2 separate regions of the Homo sapiens genome follow, and region 1 is linked to region 2. Evidence: fine-mapped expression QTL. A gene starts in region 2. The other region holds a variant in brackets. All regions are shown on one strand. Distances are between the middles of the regions.

Region 1 (2,911 bases), 200 kb before region 2:
CTTGTACACGCATGTTTACAGCAGCACAATTTGCAATTGCAAAAATATGGAACCAGCCCAAATGCCCATCAATCAACGAGTGGATAAAGAAATTGTTGTGTGTGTGTGTGTGTGTGTGTGTGTGTGTGTATAGATATGATATATATGTATATATATATATTATATGTGTGTACATATATATCACATCATATATACATATATTTATATATATGATGGAATACCACTCAGCCATGAAAAGGAATGAATTAATGGCATTTACAGCAACCTGGATGGAACTAGAGACTATTATTCTAAGTGAAGTAGCTTAGGAATGGGAAACTCAACATCGTATGTTCTCACTCATAAGTGGGAGCTAAGTTATGAGGATGCAAAGGCATAAGAATGATACAAAGGACTTTGGGGACTCGGGGGAAAGGGTGGGAGGGGGGCGAGAGATAAACGACTACAAATTGGGTTCAGTGTATACTGCTTAGGTGATGGGTGCACAAAAATCTCACAAATTGCCACTAAAGAACTTATTCATGTAACCAAATACTACCTGTTCCCCCCAAAAAACTATGGAAATAAATTTTTTTAAGAAATTAAGTCTATGAAAAGAAAAAAAGACAATCTTAGTAGCTCTAGTGGGAGATGATGGTGCTTGGACCAGGATACTAATAGTAAAAATCGAGAAAGAGAAGGACATTGGAGCTTCAAGGAAAATGGAGAAGCTTTGATGTATGGGTGGTAGGAAGTGAATTAACCAATGAAGTATAATGGAATTATGAGGTAGTAGTAAGGGACATTTAAATATAAGAAACCATGAATTTATAGTGGAAACAATATACTTTGCTGCATAACTTTCTGCTACAATATTTGGCTGTTCAAGTGCAAGCACAAAGAAAGTTAAGAGTTGGGATCATACAGAACTAGAGTTTTGCAAGTGTGTCTGACCAAAAAGACAGAAATATTAATAAGAACATGTTCAAATGATAGACTATAGACTCTGAATTGGACAATAAAGTAAATAAAACAAGGGCTTGTGAGTTTGGAGAAAGCAGAGGTCAGTAGACTGGAAGACCTGATATAGTCAAATATAGGCACAGTTGGGATAAAAGGAGGTTGTAATCAGAGAGTGTGATGAATTCATAATTTGGGAGGTGAAGCATTTTCTTTTTTCTATTTTTTGAGACGGAGTCTTGGTCTGTCGCCCAGGCTGGAGTGCAGTGGCGTGATCTCGGCTCACTGCAAGCTC[C/T]GCCTCCCGGGTTCACGCCATTCTCCTGTCTCAGCCTCCTGAGTAACTGGGACTACAGGCACCGGCCACCACGCCTGGCTAATTTTTTTGTATTTTTAGTAGAGACGGGGTTTCACCGTGTTAGCCAGGATGGTGTCGATCTCCTGACCTTGTGATCCGCCCGCCTCGGCCTCCCAAAGTGCTGGGATTACAGGCGTGAGCCACCACACCCGGCCAGGTGAAGCATTTTCAGTAGCAGTTATAGAAGATGGAAAAGCAGAAGGTATTAATATAATGGTAGCAGTGTTTGGCCAAAGTAGAATGGAAGAGAAGATTATTAGGATGATATGGCAAAGAATGAAATAGTCAAGATATATAGTTGTCCACAGTCCATGTCCAATTGATGTCACCAGCATAACAGCAGGTCTTGGAGTAGAGAGGAGGACCATGATACATATCCCAAAATATTCAATAAATTAAGGGTAGCGAATATGGAGAGTAGATGGAAGTAACAGGAGGTGTAGAAGATGCTAAAACAGAGAATGGCATTAGCCTCAAAAGCTTGTGAATGTGTTTAACAAAGGCAAAAGAATCATTGTTTGGGAAGCGTCATCAGTAAGCAGGGGATACAATTTCACCACATGGTCATGATCTTGAGGTACTGAGGCATAATAACAGCCCCACTGGAGAAGAAATGGCTACAGGGAAGATAATATTCTCAATAGAGGCTCTAGAATGGCCCCAAATATTTTTTCACAAAGTAAACACTTTGTTTCACAGCAACTGCAGTTTCCTTCTCTTCACATTTCTTAAAGAAAGAGACACTCTCTAACAACTGAGAATTTCCTTTAAAGAACTCCAGGATACTTTCCATTTGCCTTTATAGGAGTACAGGGAATATGCCAATCAGTTCCACATTATGGGGAAGAACATGAGACTAAGAGATACAGCCTAATTTTCCTGCACGCAATTTTGCAGAAGTTGTGATCTTAAAAGATGTTGGAAATTATCAGCTCTGTGGCCTTCTGACTCCAGCTGTTTGTTTTTCAAGGACATCCATCCCATTGTGCACTGCTCCTTTCTATATCTGGCTCACAAAGATCTGCTTTCCATCTGGATCCTGGTACCCAGCCCTAACGTTTTGAGGTCATGAATACACATAAGTAGTCAAGGCAGTGCTGGACTCACAGTGACACTATGATCAGATCCACCTCCAGCTTCAAAAAAGCATTCAACTAAAAAGCATTAAAGCACATCTACATGGTAAATTCTAGAAAATCCTGGCTTTCTAAGTTTGAGTTACACTCTATACCTGACATGGCCACCCAAGTCAGTGAAGGAAACACATAAACAGATGTCATGAGGATAATGGGAAGGCAGTTTTTTCACTGTCAGAGAAGGAAATTACAAATATGGAAAAGTTAAAAAAGAAACGGAATTAACACTGTGGCACTGGATTAGAATTAGAGAGTTTAGTATGAATTTATGGTTTTAGATAGACAGATTGATTGATATGAATATTATAGATACTAATTGAATAAAATAAAAATCCATATGTGCACACTGATATAAATAATTGAATGAATAAATAAATGAGGAAGAAGAGAAGATTCTTTCTTATAATAAAATGTCAACCAGTAAATGCAGAAACAATGATGGAATACGACATTTATCAATGGATGTCAAAATTATTGGGTA
Region 2 (2,911 bases):
CACTTGAAAAAACAACCCATTTAGCCATATAAACATTTTCTTCACCCATAATCACACATATCAAATTGGAACTGGTTACATAGATATAAATATCACAACCACCCAACCCCCAAATCCAAACATCATTTCCAAAAGCAAAAGAAAAAGGATTCCTTCTCCATATGGTACTGGGTCTTAAGGCTGGAATCTCTGAGAGAAGAGTCTTGCGTTATTGTTTAAACAACCTTTATTACCTGCCTCTGACATTCCCCAGGGTTACAGAGCAGGGGGCATCTGAGCCTCAAGTTCCACGGATGAAGCAGACACTGCAATAACAACTGAATCAATAGAGGAGAGGCATTTGGAAGTACTGGGGTGATACACCCAGTAATGGTAATCCTCAGCAGAAGATGGCATAGCTACCAAAAATCAGGCGTTACCACTGGGATGAAAACTGGGGAGGCAAGAAAATCATACGGTTGGAGTCATAGATCATTTCCCTCCCCGTTGAGCACTCCTCCCCCTTCCGTCCCCCATTAAGTTCATTCTATCCCACAGACTGGTCCTAGTGTCCTGCTAGCTCCCTGCTGAAAGAGAGAGGGAGGGAAAAGATGTCTGAGGTCTCTTCATTTCCTTTGTCTCTGTCCCTAAGGCAACTGGAAGCTGGAGCTGCTGCAGTCGGCCTGGCAAGCCCGTTGGCTCTGCAGAGTGAGCAGTCCCTGGCAGCCCCTGGAGCAGCTGCCAGTTAGACGGCCCAGAGTTCTGATAGAATGCATTGCTTCAGTTCAGTGCCAAGTGTTGGACGTGTTGGATTCAGTTCCCAGAGGGCTGGAGCGTGCTGTCAGGGCTGTCTGAAGACAAGAGAGCAGAGGCAGTTTAGTGCAGTTGGATGTGCGGGGTAGGGGTGGAGGCGCAGGGGTGAAGAGGGAGAAACTGGCCCGAATGGGTAAGGTGGTGCTTCTCCTTCCAGGGCCTTCCAGACAAGGTCTCCTGGCCTCTCACCATTATCTGGGCCTCAGATGAGGCGAACCCTGGAAGGGAGTTGGGGGTGGAAGGTGGGAGGCGCGCCCAGGGATGAGCGAGATGAGGAGGGCGCGAACCAGCAATCTGGGGCTGTGGTTTTAGACCCGCTCAGCGCCCTGGGCGAGGGCAGGCAGCCCCTCGGAGGCAAGCTGGCGGCGGCCCTCGGCCTGGGAGCCCGCGGCAGCCTCGGCGTCGGCGGTCAGGGCGCCTCCCGGGGCCCATTCGTGCTCGGCGCAAGCCTGGGACGGCTCGTCCTTGGCCTCGACGAGCTTACGGGAGCGGGTGTAGGCCAGGATGAGGCCTCCGGCCAAGCAGGCGTAGAAGATCATGATGAGCAGGATGTAGAGATAGGCGTCGTCGCCCTTGGCGCTGGTCACCTCGCGGCCCACGAAAGGGTCAGGCACGACCCCCATGCCCATGCTGGGACGAGGGCCAGCGCCCAAGCCGCTGGCATTACCCCGGTGGTGCAGCTCGAGCAACAGGCGGCTCAGAAGGGTTCGCAGCCGCTGGCTCTCGCTGCAGTTCATGGCTTTCGGGGAGTGACACGGCGGCTCCAGGACGCTGCTGACCTTTCCCCCTGGGCGAGGGGAAGCGAGCTAGCGAGCGGGCCGGCCGGCGGGCAGGGCTCAGCAGCGGAAACAGCGGTAGCACCCAGCTCTCCGGCGAGCGCGCAGTGGCTGGGGGCGCCGACGGCGGGGCCTCCTTATTCCCTCACTCCCGCCCCTCCTCCCCTTCCCCACCACGCCCCCTCCGGCCCGCGGCCGCCTCTTCCCAGGCTCTGGCTGTCTCGCTGCTCCAGGGAAAGGGGACAGCTGGTGGGGGGAGGAGAAGGGGACAAGAGTGGGGGCGAGGCTGGGAGACGGGCGGAGGGGGCGGGGGCTCGGAATGCGCGAGGCCCCAGGCAGCAGACGCTGGCAGGGCAGCTTGCTGGGGCCAAGCCTGGACCCTGGGCTGCGGAAGAGAATTCCTTCCAAGTTCTGGCCACCTGCCCTGCAGGCCAGGCTTTGGCCCAGATACAGCATTTGGCCCCCTAAGGCAGCTCTGCCTTGGGGCGCTCAAGGGAGAGGGCAGACGCCTTTCCGCAGCAGAGACCCCTTGTCCACATTTTATGGAAGTTACTCCCATATACAGGGACCCAGGCCTATCTTTCTAGTCCTCATTCCTTTCCTTTTCCCCCCGCCCCCCTTTTCACCCCCCTCCCACCTTGTCGGAGGAGAGCATCTTATTCAGAAGATGCTCAGGCTGAATTTGGTGACTGAGTGCTCAGGCACCTGCTAGAAGGCCAAGGCAGAGTAGAACTCCCTGGTTATCCAAAATGGTTTCTGGTGATATAAGTGATATTACACCTTCTTGGAAGCACCCCTGCTCTGATGTCCTATGACACTTTTTGAAAAGTCAACACATCTTAGCACATGAATGTACTATTCATAATGGGAGCCTGTTTCCCATGGGTAAGTAAGCCATCTTCCCAGAAGTGAAACCAAGTTCTTCCAATAAGAGTAGCATGCACATTTTAAAAGGCCCTTTGACTACACTCTGTGGATATCTCGGGATCTGAAAAGTGCCAGTTCTAGAGAATATGCTCACCCTACTCCCAGTTAGGCCAGCAAACAGCTGTGTGCCTCTCTAGACTTGGTAACAGGTCTAGGCCCTAATGGCTTTTAGGGCAGCCATTTTTTTCTCAAAGGCTGTCTTTTTTTAGGGGAAAACAAGGCACCAAGACAAAGATCAGGCCAGATATGTTAAATTGGAAACAGACTGAGCTTCACAAAGGAAAAGGGTTGGTTTGTAGATGGTGGGGTAGAAAAAATGAGGTAGTGCTGGCTAGGTCTGGTTGTCCATAGTTGCCAAATGAGAGCAGAAAGCAAGAAAAGTGTATGACCTTAGGCACACCTTGAAAATAATGCTG

Which allele goes with the higher level. Alleles are on the strand shown, and positions count from the first base shown. SD is a standard deviation of normalised expression in the study named.
For the expression in testis of the gene that starts at base 1,681 in region 2, C is the high allele of the variant in region 1 and T is the other (moderate effect, 0.57 SD a copy in GTEx).

Evidence for each region. PIP is the estimated chance that this variant, and not a neighbour inherited with it, causes the effect.
Region 1: its variant is fine-mapped to the expression of KCNE5 in testis (GTEx, PIP above 0.99).

Annotation. Positions count from the first base shown.
Region 1 is chrX:109,425,240-109,428,150 of GRCh38, forward strand. All of the region lies in intron 8 of GUCY2F (guanylate cyclase 2F, retinal), which reads right to left. Among named protein-coding and RNA genes, the nearest start is that of GUCY2F, 55 kb to the right of the region's middle. The variant C/T (reference allele first, on the strand shown) is at 1,235.
Region 2 is chrX:109,623,492-109,626,402 of GRCh38, forward strand. KCNE5 (potassium voltage-gated channel subfamily E regulatory subunit 5) reads right to left here and starts at 1,681. Exons shown (of 1, transcript NM_012282.4): 1 at 209-1,681. The coding sequence starts at 1,529. The coding sequence ends at 1,101.